2 separate regions of the Homo sapiens genome follow, and region 1 is linked to region 2. Evidence: fine-mapped expression QTL. Tissue or cell type: whole blood. Region 2 holds a variant in brackets; the other region holds the start of a gene. All regions are shown on one strand. Distances are from middle to middle. Region 1 holds the start of CIMAP1A (ciliary microtubule associated protein 1A). Region 2 overlaps SIRT3 (sirtuin 3).

Region 1 (11,005 bases), 26 kb after region 2:
TGAAGTGCTTCGAATACACAGCCTGGCACGATCACAGCGAAGTGAAGGTCAGCAGTTGTACTGTGCTTTATACAGGTGCAGGTGATGGTCCTACCAGTGTGTCTGTTGAGGTCACCCGTCCTAAAGTGACCTCCCTGAAAGCCTGAGTTGAAATCCAGACTCCACTTCTTGAGGCCTGGCCTTGGACTCTTGGGCAGCCTCTGGAAATCCTCCTCTTCAGGCCCAGCGGATACCCCACCTTCCCTGTCCATGTCTTCCTTGTACTCCCTGTATGACCCATTGATGTGTAACAGGTCACCCTAAAACTTCACCTAAAATAGCAATGATTTATCATGTCTCATTGAATTTGAGACGGGGCACGCTTCAGGGTTGGCTGTCTTTGCTCTACAGTGTCGAGGCCTCACTGGGAGATGTGGTCCTGGGGCTGCCTTCACTTGAAGGCTCACTCACAGGTCCAGAGGTCAGTGCTGGTGAGTGGAGGGCCTGGCCGGGCTGACTGCCTGTGGCCGGGCTGACGACTGCCTGTGGCCGGGCCGACTGCCTGGGATGGTGCATTCAGTCTCGCCATGGTTGAGCTTCCTCACAACATGATGGCTGGTGCTGGAGCAAACATGGACACGTGGCAGAAGGGTGGGGGTGGGGTGGGCTCTGGTGTCCAGGCGGAAGCTGTTTCCTTGGTATGTTGTGTGCGTGGCCTCAGGAGCCTGGTGGCATCACTTCTGCCATACCTCATTACTCAGGACACCCACAGGCTATAGTCCAGATTCAAGGGAAGGGACCCAGCATTGCTCAGAGGTGATGAGCACAGGTGTGGCCATCTTTGGGTTCAAGGCAGAAAGCATCAGGAGGGACAGTGTGGAGCAGGGTGTCTGAGGTACTCAGGCCCTACCATCTCTCCCCACACAGACCCTGGGCCCTCCCATCTCACCAAGCTGACCCTGGGCCCTAGAAGGCAGGATGGGACCCCTTGTGGGCAAGTGCTGACAGCCTACGGGGGCTCCTTTCTGGAAATGCTTGATCCTTCCACCAAGACAAACCCTTATTAATGCAATCTGATTTATTAATAATTTGGGCACAGCAGAAAACAAGATTAAAAAATGGTAAAATAGCATAGAAAAAAAGTAACTGATTACAATTGCCCAAACAAGCGTGCTCTGCCCTGCAGGGCCAGGCTGGCCCAGCCCAGCTGGTGAAGACAGCCTCGAGCTCTGTGGCCCGGCGGATCTTGTGTAGATGCCGGGTGTGATGGGGCACAGCAGGGCTGGCGTTATTCCACATCAACCAGCAGGGGAGTCATGTAATCAGAGTGTTTGATGCCGAAGGTGACAACTGGGGCGCAGGGCTTGGTCAGGGTCACCTGGGAGAGGAGGGGCTATGATAGGAACCAGCACCCCTGCCCCCACCTGCAGGTCTCTGCCCTGGCTGGGGCTGGGCTGCTGTCCTTCCTGAACCTGGGGCCAAGGTGGCCAGAAGCTATGCTCCCAGGTTTGAACACAGAGCACTCAGCAGTAGTAGCTGTCACAGTGTCTAGGGAAAAGGGCAGGGTCTCTGCTTCCATGTCCCTGAAGGGTTACCTGTGGGCCTAGTGCTGGAAATGTACAGGGTCCTCAGGGTGCAGGTGCCTCCCATCCCCACCCCACCCCTCCACCCCTTCTTGGCTGTGTCCTTCCATAGCCTGACCCTGTTTCCCCTCGTCTGTGTCCCAGCCCCCCTCCCTGCTCTTTCCTACACATCCCTCTGGGCCAGGACCCTGCCCCACCCTGACCCCTCTGAGCTGTGCTCTTCCTGGACCTTCTCAGGGCTGTGGGCGCCTGGTCCTGGCTTGAGGGTCTTGTCCCCTGGGGGCTCCACACGGGCAGCCATGGTGTACTGCGGAGCCTTGAACTTGGTCACCCGCACATCAGTTTGGCGGTAGGCTGCGGGACCTGGGGTCTGAGAGGTAAAGGAGGCTCAGACCAACTCGGCCTACCCAGGGCGTGTGGCCCTAGAGGACAGGGAGCAAACTCAGGCTCTGAGTCAACAGGGTCAGCTACAAGTTGGTGCCCGTGCATCAAGGTCCCCTTCTGTCTTCTGTCACACTGTGGAGATCACACCCCACTGCTTGTGGGGTACCTCATGTGGGGGTCACTTCCTCCATTTCAGCCTCACGCTGGCAATGGCATCCCCAGTGTGTGCCAGTCCTGGGAACATCGCTGAGCGTGTGTGAGAGAGGCTGTTGCTGCCCTGTTGGACCTGAGGGCCTGGGGCTGGCAAAATCAACATGGACGAGGGCTGTTGGGTGCCATGATGCTGCTTCCCCATCTCAGGCCCCTCAAGCTCTCAGGCATGTGCCACCCAGGGGCTTTGCACTGGCTGTTTCTGAAACCAGGACCCTCCTCCCCCAAATAGCTCATGGTTTATTTTTTCCTCCTCCTCTTCTTTCCATGCTACCCTATCTAAGATTGCCTCTCTCTCTCCAGACAGTGCTTCCTAAACCCCATCTCTTGTCCTCAGCACGGTCCATGCTGGGGCCAGGGCGTCTCCCTTCTGGCCTGTTGCCTGCCCCTCCTCACCACTGCAGTGTAACCCCAGCACGTGGCAGGTGCCCAGAGGGTGAAGGGCTGAGGGGGCTGAGGGGCATTGGCAAGGCAGGGCCGAACTGGTGGGTCCTGGGTTCCGGGGGAGGGTTCAGATGGTTGGGGGTGATTCTCTGTTCTCAGTTGGGGTGGCCCTTGCCTTGTGTAGGTCGTCGCTGAAGCCGCCCAGCTTGCTGCGGCCCTTGATGGAAAAGGAGGGCTGGGAGGCCTTGCCGACGGTATTGGGCCCCATTACCATGGGCAGCATGTACGCAGCGGGGCCTGCAGGGTGGACGTGGAGCCTCAGGCCGGAACAGGGCCCACTGCTCCTTCCCTGGGGCTCTCCCCCAACTCTGGAGATCAGCCGTCGGGCTGCCCCATGTCACACACCCCACCCAGGATCCCCAGGTCCATTTGGCTGAGGATGGTTGGGGCTGCTGCGGACCTGGGGTGCTGTCCACTCGGAATGCCTTTGTCCGGGCAGAGATGGAGTGGCTGGGTGCTGAGTCGAACACGTACTTGGTGGATTTCTCTGGAAAGTAGTCACCTGGACAAGGAGCCAAGGGGGCTGCTGGGACAAGCAGGTGGGTATGCAGCCCAGTTTGGGGGCTCAAGGAGGACTCCCCAACATTCTAGGCGTGGGGCCTCTGGGCTCCAACACAGGTGGTGACCAAGTCGGGTCAGGGGGTGTCCAGGATGGAAATGCTGACTTCAGGGCTGGTGAGACAAAGGCTATTTTTGAGCAGGGAGAGTGGGGTCTGACGTCGGCCTGGCAGAGAAAGGTCCAGGTCGGAGCTGGACTCTTGGGCCAGAGTCTTCTCTGCCCAGGCACGATGGTGACCCCTCAAGAGAGAAAGATGGGACGGGAGGGGCCAGGATGGCTGAGCTCTCCCACACCCTTGCTGACATGAGGTTAGGGGCACCCAGCAGGGAGGGGCAGGCCTGAGGCTGCGCAGGGCAGGAGCCTGAGACAGGGTCACTAACCTGGACCAGGAGTCAGCATGGTCTTGGTTTGGTAGCGCCCCAGGATGGAGTAGGCAGGGCCAAGGTCCTTGCCAGTCCTCAGTATCTTGGGGTTTACATTGTAACGGGGCCCTGGGGAGCAGTTCTCTGCCAGGAGCATGGGGGCCCCACGGAAGCTGTAGGCCGGTGCACGCAGCTTGGTGGGCGTGTGCTTCATGAAGCCTGTGGACGCAATGGGCCCTGAGCAGCCCGGAGCCTGACCTGCCCTTCTCCCCGCTGGGAGTCAGGGATTGAGCCCCAGGCCCTTCCCGGGACCCCCACCTGCCCGCCTGGCTCCTGACCCTCTCCCACAGTCTCTCAGGCTCTTACCTGTTGTTGGTGGAATCAGGTACTTGGGTCCAGGGCTGCTGTAGAGGGCCATGATGGGTCCCCGGGGGCGATGGGGCCTCCAGGTACCCATCCATACCTCCTCCGTCATGGCCAGCTCTGTCCGTAAGTGAGAGGGTTACCAGGTGCTGGGAGGCCCGGCCCTGTCCCATGCCGGCCCCTGATGTCCCCGACCCTGCTCTTGCTGACACTGAAGGGTAAGACCTGCGGAACCTGCTGCAGCATCAGTGGGGATCTCCAGCTGGGAGCCAGGAGTCAGGGACAGTAGGAGCTTTCTGCATGGGTCTGTGAGCTCCTCACCAGCTTAACTGTAACCCAGAGTTGCTGTCCATGCTGGCCCTTAACTCACCACTGTTCTCGGCTCTAAGGGAGCCCTGGGCCGGTTTCTCCTACTTGGAGTGGTCAAAGATGGGGAACTTCTTGATTGAGGCTGAGCTGAGGGGCAGGGAGGGGGCCGCCTGGGAGGGAACTATAACTTCTTCAGTGCAGGGACAGCACTCAGAGCAGCCTAGAGACCCATCCTCATCAGAGACTGTCCTTTCCCCCCTGGCCTTGGTGCCAGGGAGTTCCCGCAAAAGGAGCATGGAGAGAAAGGCCTTCCTCTCTCCTCATGGGCTTACAGAATTGGGGAGAGGTCCCCCACTCTAAACTCTAGAATGTGGCTCTGTGGGATGACAGGTTCTAGATTCTGTCTATGTGACCAAGACAATGGCTTCTGCCTTTGATCCCCTCACCAGATCTCACCACCAGGTCCCCCCAACAGGACACCCCTATAAGTCCCCCTGACCATGTTCCCCTCACCATGTTCCCCTCACCAGGTCCTCCTCACCAGGTCCCCTCACCAAGGCTCCCCACCCATGTCCTCCTCACCAGGTCCCCTCACCAGGTCCCCTCACCAAGGTCCCCCCCATGTCCCCTCACCAGGTCCCCTCACCAAGGTCCCCCCCATGTCCCCTCACCAGGTCCCCTCACCAAGGTCCCCCCCATGTCCCCTCACCAGGTCCCCTCACCAAGGTCCCCCCCATGTCCCCTCACCAGGTCCTCCTCACCAAGGTCCCCCCCATGTCCCCTCACCAGGTCCCCTCACCAAGGTCCCCCCCATGTCCTCCTCACCAGGTCCCCTCACCAAGGTCCCCCTCATGTCCCCTCACCAGGTCCCCTCACCAAGGTCCCCCCCATGTCCCCTCACCAGGTCCTCCTCACCAAGGTCCCCCCCATGTCCCCTCACCAGGTCCCCTCACCAAGGTCCCCCCCTATGTCCCCTCACCAGGTCCCCTCACCAGGTCCCCTCACCAAGGTCCCCCCCATGTCCCCTCACCAGGTCCCCTCACCAAGGTCCCCCCCATGTCCTCCTCACCAGGTCCCCTCACCAAGGTCCCCCCCATGTCCCCTCACCAGGTCCGCTCACCAAGGTCCCCCTATGTCCCCTCACCAGGTCCCCTCACCAAGGTCCCCCCCATGTCCCCTCACCAGGTCCTCCTCACCAGGTTTCCCTAAGTTCCCTCACCAGACCACCCCTCACCAGGCCCCCTCACCATGTTTCTTTCACCAGGTCCCCTCAACCAGGCACCCACCCATGAAGTCCCCCTCACTGGGTCCCCTCACCAGGTCCCCTGTAACCAAGTCCTCCAGGGCCCCCTCCCTAGGGCTCCCTCAGCCAAATGGAAATCCAGGCAGATACCATGTAGGCAGGTGGGACAGAGCACAGAGCCGACAGCACCGCATGGCCCCCTTGCCAGGCTCAGACAGGACAGAGGTGTGGAGAGGAGGGCCGGGGCAGTGAAGTGTCAGGGCTCAGCACCCAGGGTGGCCAAGGATGGGGCGGTTCCACTCAGCTGTGCCCCCAGAAGAGACCATAGATTGGGCAGCTGAAATGCTGGAAGGTTCTGGCTGTGGGAGAGTCTGGGATCCAGGGTCAGGATCAGGGTCTGTGCTGGTTGTGGTGGGTGTGAGTCAGTGTGGGCGCTGGGGCTGCCCTGGCTGACCTCAGAGGCTGCTCACCTGCGGCTCCCAACCCCCTTGGACATGGGTGTACCTTTTTCTTGGCCTTGTCAGGGGTCCTCTTGGGGCTCGACACCAGCTTTCAGATGCTGAGCACCCCCGCCCTGACCTAGCCCATGGGCGACATGGGGTCTGTGTCCACCCAGTCCTGGACACTTCCTCTTTCTGGGGCTCCCACCTCATACCGCTGCCTCTGCCGCCCGTCTCCCTCCGGACGCCCCCTCCAGACGCCCCCTCCGGACGACCACGCAGTGTTGTCTGGCTCTGTGCTCTGTCCACCTGCCTACGTGGCGTCTGCCTGGATTTCCATTTTGGGTCTTGCCTGTGGTGTGCCTGCTCCTGTGTGGACCCTGTGTGTACCTCTGTGGGGACTTTCACACGTGTGTTCCTTGAGTGGGATCCTCTGTATGTGGGTCTGTGTGTGTGGCTGTGGCCCTGTGTTCCTGATGTCCCCATTTGTGTGTACCTCTGTGGGGACTTTCACACGTGTGTTCCTTGAGTGGGATCCTCTGTATGTGGGTCTGTGTGTGTGGCTGTGGCCCTGTGTTCCTGATGTCCCCATTTGTGTGTCCCTCTGTGGGGGACTTTCGCACGTGTGCTCCTTGAGTAGGATCCTCTGTATGTGGGTCTGTGTGTGTGGCTGTGGCCCTGTGTTCCTGATGTCCCCATTTGTGTGTCCCTCTGTGGGGACTTTCGCACGTGTGCTCCTTGAGTGGGATCCTCTGTATGTGGGTCTGTGTGTGTGGCTGTGGCCCCGAGTGTGTTCCTGATGTCCCCATTTGTGTGCCCCTCTGTGGGGGCAGAGACAGGAGCCTGAGCTGCGGAAGAGGCTTTATTGATTAAACGGTTTGAGGATACATTTCCATGTGGGAGGTGGTAGTGGGCGTTGTGTCCACGGCTGCTTGTGTGGCAGGTCCTATGGCTGAGCCATGTCTGAGGTCCACTTAGGCACCGTCCTGACTGCCCAGCACTTGCACCTGGAAGGCAGACACATGTGGACTAAGAGGGCTGTGCTCAATAAGTGGAGAGCCACAGCTCCATCAGGCAAGCAAGGCCCTCAGTGGGGGGGGGTCTGGCATATTGCTGCCTATCTCCTCCCAGCAGCTGGGAGGTGTGTGTGCACATGTGATGGTGTGCACACATGTATGTGTGTGCATATCCCAGTGTGAGCATGTGGGTGTGAACGTGTTTATACATGTGTGCACGCAGTGTACATTTCATGTCTGCACCTGTGTTTGGATCTCTGTGTATGTTCACATGTGTGCATGGAGGAGTATCCCACAGACTGGGGAGGAGGTCTATGGAGTCTGGGGGCTGCTCGGTGGACAGGAGGTCTGGGGTGTCCACCTGAGCTGGCTGATGCGGGTGCAATGTCTGTGGGTGGTGGATGTCTGTGGGTGGGGTAGGCTGTGTGGGTGCTGTGTTGGGTGGTCTTGGTAAGGCTGCAGATCTTTAGAAAATGGGGTGCCCGCCGCCCTCATACCAGCAGCTTGACCAGCTCCGCCTTGTGCATTGGCTGCAGGCCATCTATACAGGACTTGAGTTCAGTCATTGCTGCCTTGGCATCTTCGTTGACATTGTACTTGCCCAAGGTCCCCTCATAGAGCTCCTCTGGGGTCCCCACCAGTAGTGTTTGCAGGAAGTCCATGAAAAACTCATCGTTGTCCTCCCCTGTGGCCATCCCTGCATCACGAGCGAGATGATGCCAGGACAGGACAGGGTGACTCTGGTGCAACCACAGCCCTGGACCTGCCCCAGGGCTCCAACCTCCATGGTCTCCAGACCTTCCCCTTCAATGCCCACCTCTCCTCCCCAGGGCTTCCTCCACAACACCTCCAACTCCACCTTGCCCGAAGACCCCTCCACATCCCCCTTAATCTTAGCTGCTCCAATTTCCACTCAGCATTCCCTGGGATCACCAGGGAAGGAAAGTTAAGCTCCTGGTGTGGGGGAAATTTCCCCTGATGAGAGGCTATTATGACCAGAGGCTTGAAGGGTCAGGTCAGGCTGGACTGGGCTGGGGTAGGAGACACTGGGCTGGTGTTGGGTCAGCTGGGCTTTGTCCTTGGTTGGGGTGGAGTAGGGTGGGCGCGGGTTCTGCAGGGTCCTTGCCCACTTCTGTGACAGAAGCAGGTGGAGTGTTCACTGCAGAGGCCCGATGCCAGGATTTTACCTTCTCAGGTACCCCCCACTCCCCCCCACCCCTGAATGTTCTGGAAACCCCAGTGGCACAGACTCACGGCAGATGCAGAACAGGGTGAGGGCCACCAGCAGGAGGGCACGGCTCCCCTTCATGCCAGCAGTCTCAGGAGCTGCCTCCAGCCAGAATCCCGGGATTTTATGCCTCACCGGACAGCACCTCTCCTAGAGGGCGGACCGGACCTGCCCATTAGGACCCGGCAGCCAGCTTAGATGAGGTTTGTTCACATCCCTGGCCCCCAGTGGGTGCCAAGCAGCAACAGGCATGGAGTGGCTGTGTGACAGGTGGTTGGCAAGCGGCTTTAGGGTGTGTGAGAGAGAGAACAGGTGTGTTAGGAGGGAACACTGGTGAGAGGCCATGCCAACTGATCGGTGAAGAAGGCAGTGGGTCCTGGCCACCAAGGGCCTCTAGTCATGCCTGCCCTTGAGGCCGAGAGTGGTGGGATCTGGGGTTGGTCCCACGCCTTTCTTTTAAGGTGCGAATCCCTCCTCTTATCAGTGTGCTGTGTGATCTGGGTCTGCATCTGGGGGTCTCCAATCAGGCAGGGGCCCCTTACTACTCAGATGGGGTGGCCGAGTAGGGGAAGGGGGTGCAGGCTGCACGAGTGGACACAGCTGTAGGACTACCTGGGGGCTGTGGATCTATGGGGTGGGGAGAAGCCCAGTGACAGTGCCTAGAAGAGAGAAGGTGGCCTGAGAGGGTCTGAGGAACATAGAGCTGGCCATGTTGGGGCCAGGTCTCAGCAGGAAGTGAGGAATGGGACAGGCTTGAGGTACATCTTCCATCAGTAGCCAGGATAGCAAGGAGGGCTTGGGGTTGCTATCCTGGGGTTCAACCCCCCAGGTTGAAGGCCCTGGGGGAGATGGTCCCAGGACATATTACAATGGACACAGGAGGTTGGGACACCTGGAGTCACCAAACAAAACCATGCCAAGAGAGACCATGAGTAGGGGTGTCCCAGTCCAGCCCTCTGACTGAGCTGCATTGTTCAAATCCAAAGGGCCCCTGCTGCCACCTAGTGGCTGATGGCATCCACATGGCCCTGGGCCACACGCGTTTAGGGTCTCTGTGAAGACCAAGATCCTTGTTACATTGAACGACTCCTAAATGAGCAGAGATTTCCACCTATTCGAAACAATCACATAAAATCCCATCCTGGAAAAAGCCTGGGGGATGGCACTAAGGCTAGGGATAGGGTGGGATGAAGATTATAGTTACAGTAAGGGGTTTAGGGTTAGGGATCAACGTTGGTTAGGAGTCAGGGATACAGTAGGGTCACCGGTAAGGGTTAGGGGTTAGGGGTAGGGGTTAGGGTTAGGGTTAGGGTTAGGGGTTAGGGGTTAGGGTTAGGGTTAGGGTTAGGGTTAGGGGTTAGGGGTTAGGGTTAGGGTTAGGTTTTGGGGTGGCGTATTTTGGTCTTATACGCTGTGTTCCACTGGCAATGAAAAGAGTTCTTGTTTTTCCTTCAGCAATTTGTCATTTTTAAAAGAGTTTAGCAATTCTAACAGATATAGACCAGCTGTGCTATCTCATTGTGGTTTTCAATTGTAACCACATTGTGGTTTCAATGTGTTTACTTGCCATCTGTAGATCTTCTTTGGTGAGGTGTCTGTTCAGATGTGTGTGCATTTTTAGTTGGGCTGTTTAACTTATTGTTTAGTTTTAATAATTTTTTATATATTTTGAAGACAAATTCTTTCTCAGATGTGTATTTTGCAAATATTTTCTTCAATATGTGGCTTGTCTTTTTGTTCTCTTAACAAGGTCTCTTCCAGAGTATAAACTTTAAATATTAAGAAATCCACACTGTCACTTCTTTTGTGTATATCTACCTTTTGTGTCATTTGTTAAAATTCATTACCAAACCCAAAGGCAGATAGCTTTTCTTCTATTGTTTCTTCTAGAAATTGTATAGTTTTGCATTTTTAGTGTAAGGATGATTTTGAGTGATTATTTGTGTAAGTTGTAAAGTTTTCGTCTATATCCATATCATTTCTTATGGTTTCCAATTAATCGTTCCCTCACTATTTTTGGGAAAGACACAGGATAGTGGGCTTTGTTAGAGTAGATAGGTAGCTAGACATGAACAGGAGGGGGCCTCCTGGAAAAGGGAAAGTCTGGGAAGGCTCACCTGGAGGGACCACCAAAAATTCACATATTAGTAGCATCTCTAGTGCTGGAGTGGATGGGCACTTGTCAATTGTGGGTAGGAGGGAAAAGAGGTACCTATGCAGAAAGAAACACCCTAGAACTCCTCTGAAGATGCCCCAATCATTCACTCTGCAATAAAAATGTCAGAATATTGCTAGCTACATGCTGATAAGGCCAAAGGGGACATTCTTAAGAGAAACCTGGCACCATAAGTACAGATTAGGGCAGAGAAGGACATTCAAAAGAGGCAGGCGCAGTAGGTACAAACGTGATCGCTGTCAGTGTGCCTGGGATGGCGGGAAGGAGGCTGGTGCCAGAGTGGATTCGTATTGATCACCACACATGTACCTCAACCAACAGTGAGGAGGTCCCACAAGCCTAAGTGGGGCAAGTTGGGGAGCTAAGGCAGTAGCAGGAAAACCAGACAAAGAAAACAGGTGGAGACTTGAGACAGAGGCAGGAATGTGAAGAAATCCAAAATAAAATTCCCTGCACAGGACTCTTAGGCTGTTTTAATGCACGCTCAGCCCACTCCTCCCTATTTTTCTACAATAAACTCTTTACACTGTGTTTCTTTTCAATGAAGTTATCTGCCATCTTTGTATTGCCTCTTGGTGAAAATGTTTCTTCCAAGTTAAACAAGAACTGGGACATCAGCTCTCCCCAATAATAGCTCCGTTTCAGTTTGAATTTACAGAACTGATGGGGCTTAATAACTGGCGCTCTGACTTTAGTGGTGCAGGAGGCC
Region 2 (11,243 bases):
TCAGGAGTTTGAGACCAGCCTGACCAACATGGAGAAACCCCATATCTACTAAAAATACAAAATTAGCCGGGCGTGATGGTGCATGCCTATAATCTCAGATACTCGGGAGGCTGAGGCAGGCGAATTGCTTGAACCAGGGAGGCGGAGGTTGCGGTGAGCTGAGATTAGGCCATTGCACTCCAGCCTGGGAAACAAGAGCGAAACTCCATCTCAAAAAAAAAAAAATAATAATAATAATTGTAGGCCTTCCTTAAGAAAAATAAAATAAAATTCTAGGCTGGGCGCGGTGGCTCCTGCCTGTAATCCCAGTACTTTGGGAAGCTGAGGCGGGTGGATCACCTGAGTTAGGAGTTTGAGACCAGCCTGGCCAACATGGTGAAACCCCGTCTCTACTAAAAATACAAAGATGAGCCATTTGTGGTGGCACCCATCTGTAATCCCAGCTACTCGGGAGGCTGAGGCAGGAGAATTGCTGGAACCCAGGAGGCAGAAGTTGTAGTGAACCGAGATCATGCCACTGCACTCCAGCCTGGGTGACAGAGCGAGATGCCATCTCAAAAAAATAAAATATAAAATAAAATTCTAAGCCCTGCAACCAACTGAATGGAGCCCTCCCCTTGGTCAAGGGAACCCCAGAGAAACCTTGGAAGCTTGAGTTCCTGGCCGTAGCAGGAGAGGAGGTCAGACGCGCCTCACTGTACCCCTCCCTCCCCAGCCACCATTAGGCTTCTTCACTAAGGGCTAAACAGAAACCAGCCCTTTTCAAAGACTCTACACTGCTAATGTGGATTACTGGTTTATCTTCCCAGATACAGATTAAAGACAAGATGAGATTAATGGTTCCTTCACCCTTCCCTGAGAGGTCTGCTTAGTTCTCTTCCTCTGTTTCCTTCTATCTTAGGTAAAATGTACATTTACTGGGCACTTACTGAAGTCTCACAAGTACGTAACCACTCACCTCACAGCCACCCTCCCTCTTTGAAGGACCACATGTAATTACTAAACCTCCTGAGAACCTCTTGGGACAGAAACAAGCACAGATGTGCCGTGACTCATGTTTTTCCTGTGGGCACCCTCAGGCTGGCTCAGTAGCCCTCACTTGCTTGAGATCCTGAATCTGCGGGTTGGCGTCTTTCATGGTTGCTGGATCATACTCTGCCGTTATCTCTTCGGATATGAGTTGCCCCTAGCCCACTATCTGGCCCCTCTCTTTAGGGACCTCTGATTGAACATACATTAGACCTTCTCTCTCCTGCTGTTCCTGATCACTCTTCTGTCCTGTAATTGCTGCTTCTTGTGCTGCATTCTGGGTAATTTCTTCTGGTCTTTTTTCCAGTTTACTAATATTGTATTCTGTTATAAGGTCCTTCCATTGAGTGTTTCTTTCTTTCTTTTTTCCCAAACAGCAACTCAAAACAGACATTGAGTTTTAATTTTGGTTCCTGTACTTTTTATTTCTAGAAGTTCTATTTGGTTATTTTTCAAGTCTGCTACATTATTACATAATTTTTTAATAATTTTATATCTTTAATAGATAGTTTTTTGTTTTGTTTTGTTTTGTTTTGTTTTTTGAGACAGAGTCTCGCTTTGTTGCCCAGGCTGGAGTGCAGTGGTGCAATCTCAGCTCACAGCAACCTCCGCCTCCCAGGTTCAAGTGATTCCCCTGCCTCAGCCTCCCAAGTAGCTGGGATTACAGGCACGCATCACCACGCCTGGCTAATTTTTTGTGTTTTAGTAGAGACAGGGTTTCACCATGTTGGCCAAGACAGTCTCGATCTCCTGACCTCGTGATCTGCCCACCTCGGCCTCCCGAAGTCCTGGGATTACAGAGCTGAGCCACTGCGCCTGGCCTTTGATAGATATTTCAAGTTCATCTTTTTTTTTTGCTTCCTTAATTTTTTTTTTTGCTATACCCCATGCCTCCAAGATAACAGTTTTTTCTTTTTAATTTAAATATAATACAGTTTTACTGTGTATCCAAGAATATCTGAAATCTTTCGTGGGTCTCTTTCTTTTGTCTTTTGTATCTGTTGCTTTTTGCTGGGCTGAGCCTGCTTAAAACAAGCCCCGTTAGCTGTAAAGGTTTACCTTAGAAAGTCAGGTGTCTTCCTCTGTAACTCTCTCCCTTTTCCATCTGCTCCAAGGCATTTATTTATATTAATCTTGACGCAAAGGGAAGTTGTGTCCACTTCACCTTGGCCAGTAAGGAAGCAGTGTTTGGCAGATGTTGTTACTCCTAATAATGCCAGCCAGTGAGTGAAGCTGACCTGAATGCCTCCCAGGGCTGAGGCAATGGCATGATCACCGAAGCTCAAACCAGAGACAGTTTCACCTTTCTGACTGAATAGTGTTCGGTGTAGGCCAAATGCCTGCAGACTACTGTTTGAGGACTGGTGTGGTCTACCAGGTGTTTCCTTAGCGCCTGGATGTCTCTGGCTGCCATCCCAGGGATAGAGCATGGTGTTAGATACGCTAGATGCCTGCCGAAGTAATTATGGGTGAAACATATGATGTCCAAGATTTGCTTTTAAAGGCTCCAATACCTCCTCCCAGATTCCGGAGGGCTGTGAAACAATTAGCTATGAAAACTGGTAATTCCTGAAGCTGGGTACATGGGGGTTCATGATCCCTCTCTCACCTTTTTTGGGGGAGAATGTTTGAGACTTTAATAAGAACTTGTTGCCTTTTCCTTTTACAGGGTGTTGCAGGCATCTTCCTCAGGCCTGTTTTCTCTGTTTTCCAGGCTGACGTGATGGCAGACAGGGTTCCCCGCTGCCCGGTCTGCACCGGCGTTGTGAAGCCCGACATTGTGTTCTTTGGGGAGCCGCTGCCCCAGAGGTTCTTGCTGCATGTGGTTGATTTCCCCATGGCAGATCTGCTGCTCATCCTTGGGACCTCCCTGGAGGTTTGTCAGCAGGCCTGTGCAGGGAGGAGGCTGGAGGGCAGGGGAAGGGAGGGGTACAGGAGTCATCTCATGGGCTGTCGGCAGGCCTGTGCAGGGAGGAGTCTGGAGGGCAGGGGAAGGGAGGGGTACAGGAGTCACCTCATGGGCTGTCGGCAGGCCTGTGCAGGGAGGAGGCTGGAGGGCAGGGGAAGGGAGGGGTACAGGAGTCATCTCATGGGCTGTCGGCAGGCCTGTGCAGGGAGGAGGCTGGAGGGCAGGGGAAGGGAGGGGTACAGGAGTCATCTCATGGGCCCTTCCAGGGCTGGTGCCACTTTGGGAAGGTGAATGGATTCAGCTGGGGTTCCAGGCTGAGGGAGCAGCAGCCTGTGCAGGAGACAGGAAGGTGGGAAGCTGCTGGGCTTTGGAGGTGGTATAGGTGTGGGTGGGGCACCACGTGTGAGGAGAAGGGAGAAGGATGGGGGTGTGGGGGCGAGGTGGAGGGGCAGGGCCTCCCAGGTCAGATCAGGAATACTGATGCTGCAGTGGGAGGAGTGATAAATCCACAGGGACTGGCCCGGGGACGTAGCTGCACCCTTGGGGTCAGGGAGGCCTTTGGGGAGTGGAGAGTGGAGCAAGCAGTGCCAGGAGGCTGGTCCTGGAGAAGGTGGAGCTGTGGTCGCCTGAGGGATGGCGAGGAGGGGGACTGGACTCGCAGTCTGTGATGTTTTGGGGACGTGAGAAGGAGGCGTCTGGCTTGGTCTGTAAGGTCAGGGCACTTGCTGGTGAGGCGTGATTTGGGAGGGAGGATGCCCAGCTCGGTTCTGTGTGTGTCTGAGGTGTCGGGAAACATGCCCTGGATGTGTTCAAGCAGCTGTTCTGCGTCTGCGTCTGCAGCTCAGGAAATTCCTAAAAGCTGTGATGAGAGCAAGAAATGAGACCATGAAGTCAGTGTGTGCGTGACTGGATGTAGGCACCGAGGACAGAAGGGCCAGAAAGACCTGTGCTCAGAGGGGCCCAGGGCAGCCACAGGGGCCCAGAGCATGTGTTTGTTCAGGCATTCATTGTGTGCTGGGCCCTGCTCCAGTGCTTTGGACATACACGGTCAGATGTCAGTGTAAGAAGTTATATAGTTTGTTAGGAGATGATTGATGTTATGAGAAAGATAACAAGTAGGATAGAAAGGCTAGAAGGGTTGGGAACCAGCTGCAGTGTCAAGTCAGGCAGGTGGAGTTGGATCTAAGAGTTTACCGAGGTGAGGAGGGTCTGGCAGGGGACACTGCACAGGTGACAAGCAGCAAGGAGGGTGGGGCGAAGTCAGCATTGATGGCCACGGGGCTGGAGCAGAGAAGAAGGTGGGGCACAAGTGTCATCTCATGGGAGGCTGGCGCCACCTCAGAAGGTGAATGGGTTCAGCTTGGGTTCCAGGCCAGAGTCTGAAGTTGAGAGGACTCCGTTGGGTGCTGGGCTGTGAGCCCACCATGGGGGCAAGACTGGGAGCAGCAGACCCAGCAGGGCCCTTGTAGGTAATCACCGGCTGGCACTGGCTGGGGGCCAGGTAAAGCCAGCAGAGGCTGAGGGGTGCTGGAGTCTGGGTGTGTGTGAACGCAGAGTGGGTACGCTGGCACAGTGCATGGGAGGCCGTGGATTCCCAAGGACCCCAGGGCTGTGGCTGGAGCAGCTGGAAAGACGGAGCCGCCGCTTCCTGAGATGGAGAAGCCTGGTAGGTGGGTTTGGGGGAGCTCAGGAACTCAGCCTTGTTTCCACGGATTTGAGGATGTGCTGCGGACTGGAGGTGTTGAGCAGGTGGACATGAGTCTGGAGTCCAGGAAGGCCCAGAGGCAGGAGCTGGGGTGCTGGAGTGAGCAGACAGGAGAGCCCAGGGTGTGGACAGACATGAGAATGCCATGCTAGGCCTAGGATGGAGGGACAGACACAGGAGGAGCAGTCAGAGGGGCCATGGTGGTCAGCACAGTGTGGGCTGAGACCAGCTGACCGTGCTGGCCACCAGGTGTGGACACTTGGGCCACCAGCCATCTTTATTGTTGAAGTGAAATGAAAATGGCCTTTTTCCTGATTATAAGTGTATCATGTGTGTCTTTGAAAAGATTCGTACATTATATAAAGATATAAAGCAAAGGATCAACTTTTTAATCCCACCAACTGTTAGCATTTTATTCTGTGTCCTCTCAGCTTTCTTTTTTTTGTACAAATGCATACGTACAGATGGTAATTTTAAACTAAAAGTTGGACAGCACTGTACATTCTATTCTGCAGCCTGCTGTTTTCACGTAACAATGTGAGTCCATGGAGATGTGCTGCGTTGTTAATGCCAACAGTTTCCCTTACACGGATATGAGGTCCCAACTGAGAAACCCATGTCTGTAAGGCTGGTGCCATCATGAACTGAATGAGCTGGTGTCACGCACAGACTCTATCTCATGTGCTTTGTGGACGAAATGTTAATGTGTTTGACTGTGGAGTACCACTCCAGATCCCCTTTAGGTGTGACATAACGTGGGATGTAAACCATATGATCTTTTCTAAAATCTCAAAAATTCTGAAACATATTCAGCCACAAGAGCTTTAACATAGATTTTGTGGATTTAATACAAAATTTATGTAAGCAATTTCTTACTGATGGACAATGATAATAAATAGTATATAATTTTTACATTAAAAGTAATGCTGGGCCAGGCACCGTGGCTCACACCTGTTATCCCAGCACTCTGGGAGGCCAAGGCAGGAAGATTGCCTGAAGCTAGGCATTTGAGACCAG[C/A]CTGGGCAGTATAGTCAGACCTCGTCTCTACAAAAAATAAAAAGATAGCCAGGCATGGTCTGTGTAGTTGCAGCTATTTGAGAGGCTGAGGAAGGAGGATTGCTTGAGCCCAGGAATTTGAGGTTATAGTGAACTATGATCATGCCACTGCATTCCAGCCTGGGTAACAGAATGAGATCCCGTGCTGTAGTGAATATCCCTGTGTATCATCCTTATCTACTCATGCAAGTACTCCTGAAGGGTAAATGCTGTAGTGAATATCCCTGTGTATCATCCTTATCTACCCATGCAAGTACTCTGGAAGGGTAAATGCTGATAAATACTGAGAACTTGCCTTCCGGTGAATATCCCTGTGTGTCATCCTTATCTACCCATGCAAGTACTCCTGAAGGGTAAATGCTGTAGTGAATATCCCTGTGTATCATCCTTATCTACCCATGCAAGTACTCTGGAAGGGTAAATGCTGATAAATACTGAGAACTTGCCTTCCGGTGAATATCCCTGTGTGTCATCCTTATCTACCCATGCAAGTACTCCTGAAGGGTAAATGCTGTGGTGAATATCCCTGTGTATCATCCTTATCTACCCATGCAAGAACTCCTGAAGGGTAAATGCTGATAAATATTGAGAACTTGCCTTCCAGAAAGATGTAACAATTACACTGCCACAAACTGTGTTTTTATGTAGCCATTTTATCACATCCTCACCAAAACCAAAATCACACAAATCAAATTGGTTAAAAAATGCATGTGTGTGTGTGGAGGGGGGTGCGGATTTTGCCTTTCTGTAGTAAAGAATGAAGTTCATCTTTTCATGTTTATTGCCAGTTGTGTTTCTTCTCTTTGGATTGTATATTTGTACCTCTTGACCATTTTTCATTGGGTCATTATAAATTAGCAATATAAATTAGTTTTAATTTTAGTATAAATTAAATAATATAATTACATTTTAATGTTAATATAAACTTCTTTCTTTTTTTTTTTTTTTTTTTTGAGACAGAGTCTTGCTCTGTCTCCCAGGCTGGAGGTTCAGTGGCGCGATCTCGGCTCACTGCAACCTCCACCTCCCAGGCTCAAGCCATTCTCCTGCCTCAACCTCCCGAGTAGCTCGGATTATAGGTGCGTGCCACCACGCCCAGCTAAGTTTTGTATTTTTAGTAGAGACGTGGTTTCACTATGTTGGCCAGGCTGGTCTTGAACTCCTGACCTCAGCTGATCTGCCCGCCTCGGCCTCCCAAAGTGCTGGGATTATAGGTGTGAACCACCATGCCCAGCTGTTAATATAAATTTCATTATAAATTAGCATTATAAATTAGTTCATAAATTATATGTTTATAAATGAGTTTATCAATTAGCAATATAAACTATTGTCATATGTTGTAAATATTTTTGCAGTTTATGATGATGAGAGGTTTTTAAAAATTTTAAATTTTCTACATAGTAGTTTTATGTAGATACCGAGATAATAGTATTTACATAGTCAGATCTGTCATTTTCCTTTGCCTTATCTGACTTCAGTTTTTACGCCTAGAACGTTCTTCCCTATCCTTACTTGTAAATCCTTAGTTTTCTTCAAGAACTGTTTTGTTTACATTGAAACCTTTAATCCATTTGAATTTTTTTCAGTGGGAGGTAGGAATGGAGTATTTTCCTCCCAGATAATGAGCCAGTTTTAATGCCATTTATTAATGTATCCATTTTTTTACCTTGTTCCTCTTAAAAGAAGCTTTGAGAGCTGTATGAAGAAGCCTGATGGCACCGAGCTAGGCCTCTCTAGAGGCTGGGTGGGGAAGACCATGGAGAGACGTAACAGTAACTCCTGCTCGGGGGCACCAGCTCGTCTGGGTGCCCGATGCTGGTGGTGGCTGTCAGAGCAAGCAGGGCTAGCCAGAGGAGATGGACGAGTCTGTGCTGTTGTCCCTCTGCGTCATGCTGGGAGACAGCGAGGTGGGGAGGACAGGGAGAACAGAACGTGCTCACAAAGAGGAGGCAGGAAGGTTGGATCCCTGATGAGCCTTGGAACGGAGGTGGGGAAAAGCAAGGATGTGTGGAAACAGCAAGAAGTGGGAGAGAGAGAGAGAGGCGGAGGGGAGAAAACCGTCACGGAGGCCAAGCGGCAGGAGCTCAGCTGAAGAAATGAGATTGGTGGTGGGTTTTCCCTATATCGCAGGCTCTGACTGCCAATCTGCTGCTCCTCCAAGGCCTCGGTGGCTGTGGCATGAAACATCCTGAGGAGCTTGTAAAGTGGACACTGTGCCCCTCACGTTTGGCCCATTTTTCAGGTGGAGCCTTTTGCCAGCTTGACCGAGGCCGTGCGGAGCTCAGTTCCCCGACTGCTCATCAACCGGGACTTGGTGGGGCCCTTGGCTTGGCATCCTCGCAGCAGGGACGTGGCCCAGCTGGGGGACGTGGTTCACGGCGTGGAAAGCCTAGTGGAGCTTCTGGGCTGGACAGAAGAGATGCGGGACCTTGTGCAGCGGGAAACTGGGAAGGTACAGACTGCTGAGGAGGACCATCCAAGGGGCTGCCCTTCTCACTGCTCTAGGGTATGGTCCACCTGATATGGAGCCCCGTTGGTTAACACAGTAACAGTAATAGCTGATGATGCTGTGAATCCTGCACCAGGCACTACCTGGACCTGACTGGGTGTTACTTTCAATACCTCCATTTAGAGATGAGGAAACAGATGCTAACAGGCCAAGCAGGGACACGGTCCAGACACTCAGGGCTGATGAGTCTGTATTCTTAACAGACTATAGGCGTTACCTTCACTCCCTAAAATAAAGCAGCCAACAGTGTCCCTCTAAGGCCTGGTATGTGATTCTAAGATGATACGGGTTAAAGAACTTTGAGAAGCTAAAGTTCTCTGCATCTATGTGGGATGAAGGCTACATGAGTGATGCTTTTCGGAAGTAATTGGTATGAGAGCCATTGATCAATTATAATCCGCTGAGGAAAGCCAAAGAGCCTTGATGCTTTCTAAGAGATTTCAAACCGCCTATAAACAAGTGAAGTTACAGAAAATGCAGTTTCCCATAAGAATCATGTAGCATGTGTAGCCTTGATATTAAGGGTTTTCAATGGGAGGTGGTAGCATTAAGCATTTAAAGTCCAGTGTCATGATTACAGGCAGGTGTAACACTGTCCAAAGGGGATTTCACCAGTGTATTAGTCTGTTCTCTGGCTGCTCATAAAGGCATACCTGAGACTGGGTAATTTATAAAGGAAAGAGGTTTAATGGACTCACAGTTCCATATGGCTGTGGGGGCCTCACAATCATAGTGGAAGGCAAAGCAGGAGCAAAGTACTGTCTTACAAGGTGGCAGGCAAGAGGACGTGTGCGGGGGAACTGCCCTTTATAAAACTATCAGATCTTGTGAGACTTATTCACTATCAGAAGAAGAGTGTGGGAAAGACCCGCCCCCATGATTCAGTTACTTCCACTTGGCCCCACCCTTGACACATGGGGATGATTACAATTCAAGGTGAGATTTGGGTGGGGACACAGCCAAACCATATCAACTACAATATATCACAGTTGATGCTCCTCTTGCCTTCCAAGGCAGATGTCTTAGGAAATCCTGATCCTTTTTCCTTGTCCACAGCTGTGGCTGCCTCATGGCTCAGGGCCATGGGGTCAGCACTCTCCTCACCTCCACCAGTCCAAGACCTCCAACCTCTGGTTGCAGGCTGATTTTTTACCAATCATGGTCACTTCATTATGGAGGCAGGGAACCCAGCTAACAATGAGGCTTAAACGCTGAGAGGCGAGTGCCTCCTGGCCAGCTCACAAGGCAGCGGAGATCTTAGATCAGCCCAGCAGGCTTTTTTGAGGGATCCTTTTCCTGCTCCAACTTCATATTTTCTTTTTTTTGTAATGGAGTTTCACTCTTGTTGCCCAAGCTGGAGTGCAATGGCACGATTTTGGCTCACTGCAGCCCTGCCTCCTGGGTTCAAGTGATTCTCCTGCCTCAGCCTCCTGAGCAGCTGGGATTACAGGCATGTGCCACCATGCCTGGCTAATTTCTGTACTTTTATTAGAGATGGGATTTCATCATGTTAGTCAGGCTGGTCTCAAACTCCTGACCTCGGGTGATCCACCTGCCTCAGCCTCCCAAAGTGCTGGGATTATAGGCATGAGCCAGCAGGCCCGGCCCAACTTCCTGTTTTCATAGAAAAGCAGATTGTAACTCTGGTAGCTCCTGTGGAGTTTTGGAAGTGGCTTAATAGGATTTGAACTGTATAATCTAGTTTCAGAGAAATGTATGTAAAATGGGTTATGATTTCATTTTCTGTTTTTTACAGCATTACTATCCAAGGGGTTACTTTTCCAAATAGTGAATGCTTTTAAGCACATGAGCATCAGTACATATTGATTTGGGTACTTTAAGACCCATAGAATGAGGCTCTCCATTTAGCCACCCTGTTCTGCCCAGGCCTGCTGGGATCCTCTTAGCCCAGCACAGCAGCAGCAGTATTTGCAGAAAGCAGCTTGTTTTGTGAAATATTTTGCATGTCTGCAGCTAGAGCTGTTTGAACAGAGATCTGCTGGCCTGCCTGGGTGTGTAAACAGATAGCTGATACCCTCTGTCTTCTGTATTCCAGCTTGATGGACCAGACAAATAGGATGATGGCTGCCCCCACACAATAAATGGTAACATAGGAGACATCCACATCCCAATTCTGACAAGACCTCATGCCTGAAGACAGCTTGGGCAGGTGAAACCAGAATATGTGAACTGAGTGGACACCCGAGGCTGCCACTGGAATGTCTTCTCAGGCCATGAGCTGCAGTGACTGGTAGGGCTGTGTTTACAGTCAGGGCCACCCCGTCACATATACAAAGGAGCTGCCTGCCTGTTTGCTGTGTTGAACTCTTCACTCTGCTGAAGCTCCTAATGGAAAAAGCTTTCTTCTGACTGTGACCCTCTTGAACTGAATCAGACCAACTGGAATCCCAGACCGAGTCTGCTTTCTGTGCCTAGTTGAACGGCAAGCTCGGCATCTGTTGGTTACAAGATCCAGACTTGGGCCGAGCGGTCCCCAGCCCTCTTCATGTTCCGAAGTGTAGTCTTGAGGCCCTGGTGCCGCACTTCTAGCATGTTGGTCTCCTTTAGTGGGGCTATTTTTAATGAGAGAAAATCTGTTCTTTCCAGCATGAAATACATTTAGTCTCCTCAAAGGGACTGCAGGTGTTGACATGAGTTGGAAAGGGAACCCTGGGATACGTGGCGTCCCCTCTATTGGAACAGTCTGAGGACTGAAGGCATTTGTCCCTGGATTTATTGGAGACGGCCCAGCTCCTCCCTCTGAAGGTGGTCACATTCTGTTGACTCTCCATACTCAGCCTCTCCTCCAGAAACAGATCTGTTCCAGAACATTCCAGCACTTTCTATCTGGCCTCCTTGTCCCCACACTACGCCCCCCCACCCTCGCCAGGGCTTCCTCTAGTGACACTGTTAGAGCTAATCTCTGAGACAGGGAAGGCATTACTCACTTAAAACCCAGGCTGAGTCCTGGCCACCTGCTGGATTGTGACATAGGAGGTGGAATCCACTGAACTGCTACTTCTGCACAGGCTCCT

Evidence for each region. PIP is the estimated chance that this variant, and not a neighbour inherited with it, causes the effect.
Region 1: CIMAP1A starts here. The variant in region 2 is fine-mapped to the expression of CIMAP1A in whole blood (INTERVAL, PIP above 0.99).

What each region holds. Positions count from the first base shown.
Region 1 is chr11:190,296-201,300 of GRCh38, reverse strand. It overlaps CIMAP1A (ciliary microtubule associated protein 1A), which reads right to left and starts at 4,540. Exons shown (of 7, transcript NM_053280.5): 1 at 4,255-4,540; 2 at 3,888-4,004; 3 at 3,540-3,740; 4 at 3,001-3,102; 5 at 2,716-2,837; 6 at 1,792-1,932; 7 at 1,043-1,357. The coding sequence starts at 3,996. The coding sequence ends at 1,268. It overlaps SCGB1C1 (secretoglobin family 1C member 1), which reads right to left and starts at 8,223. Exons shown (of 3, transcript NM_145651.3): 1 at 8,147-8,223; 2 at 7,390-7,589; 3 at 6,726-6,883. The coding sequence starts at 8,201. The coding sequence ends at 6,851.
Region 2 is chr11:215,740-226,982 of GRCh38, reverse strand. SIRT3 (sirtuin 3) reads left to right here. Exons shown (of 7, transcript NM_012239.6): 5 at 2,744-2,905; 6 at 7,942-8,151; 7 at 10,265-11,243. The coding sequence ends at 10,285. Among named protein-coding and RNA genes, the nearest start is that of MIR6743, 12 kb to the right of the region's middle. The variant C/A (reference allele first, on the strand shown) is at 5,661.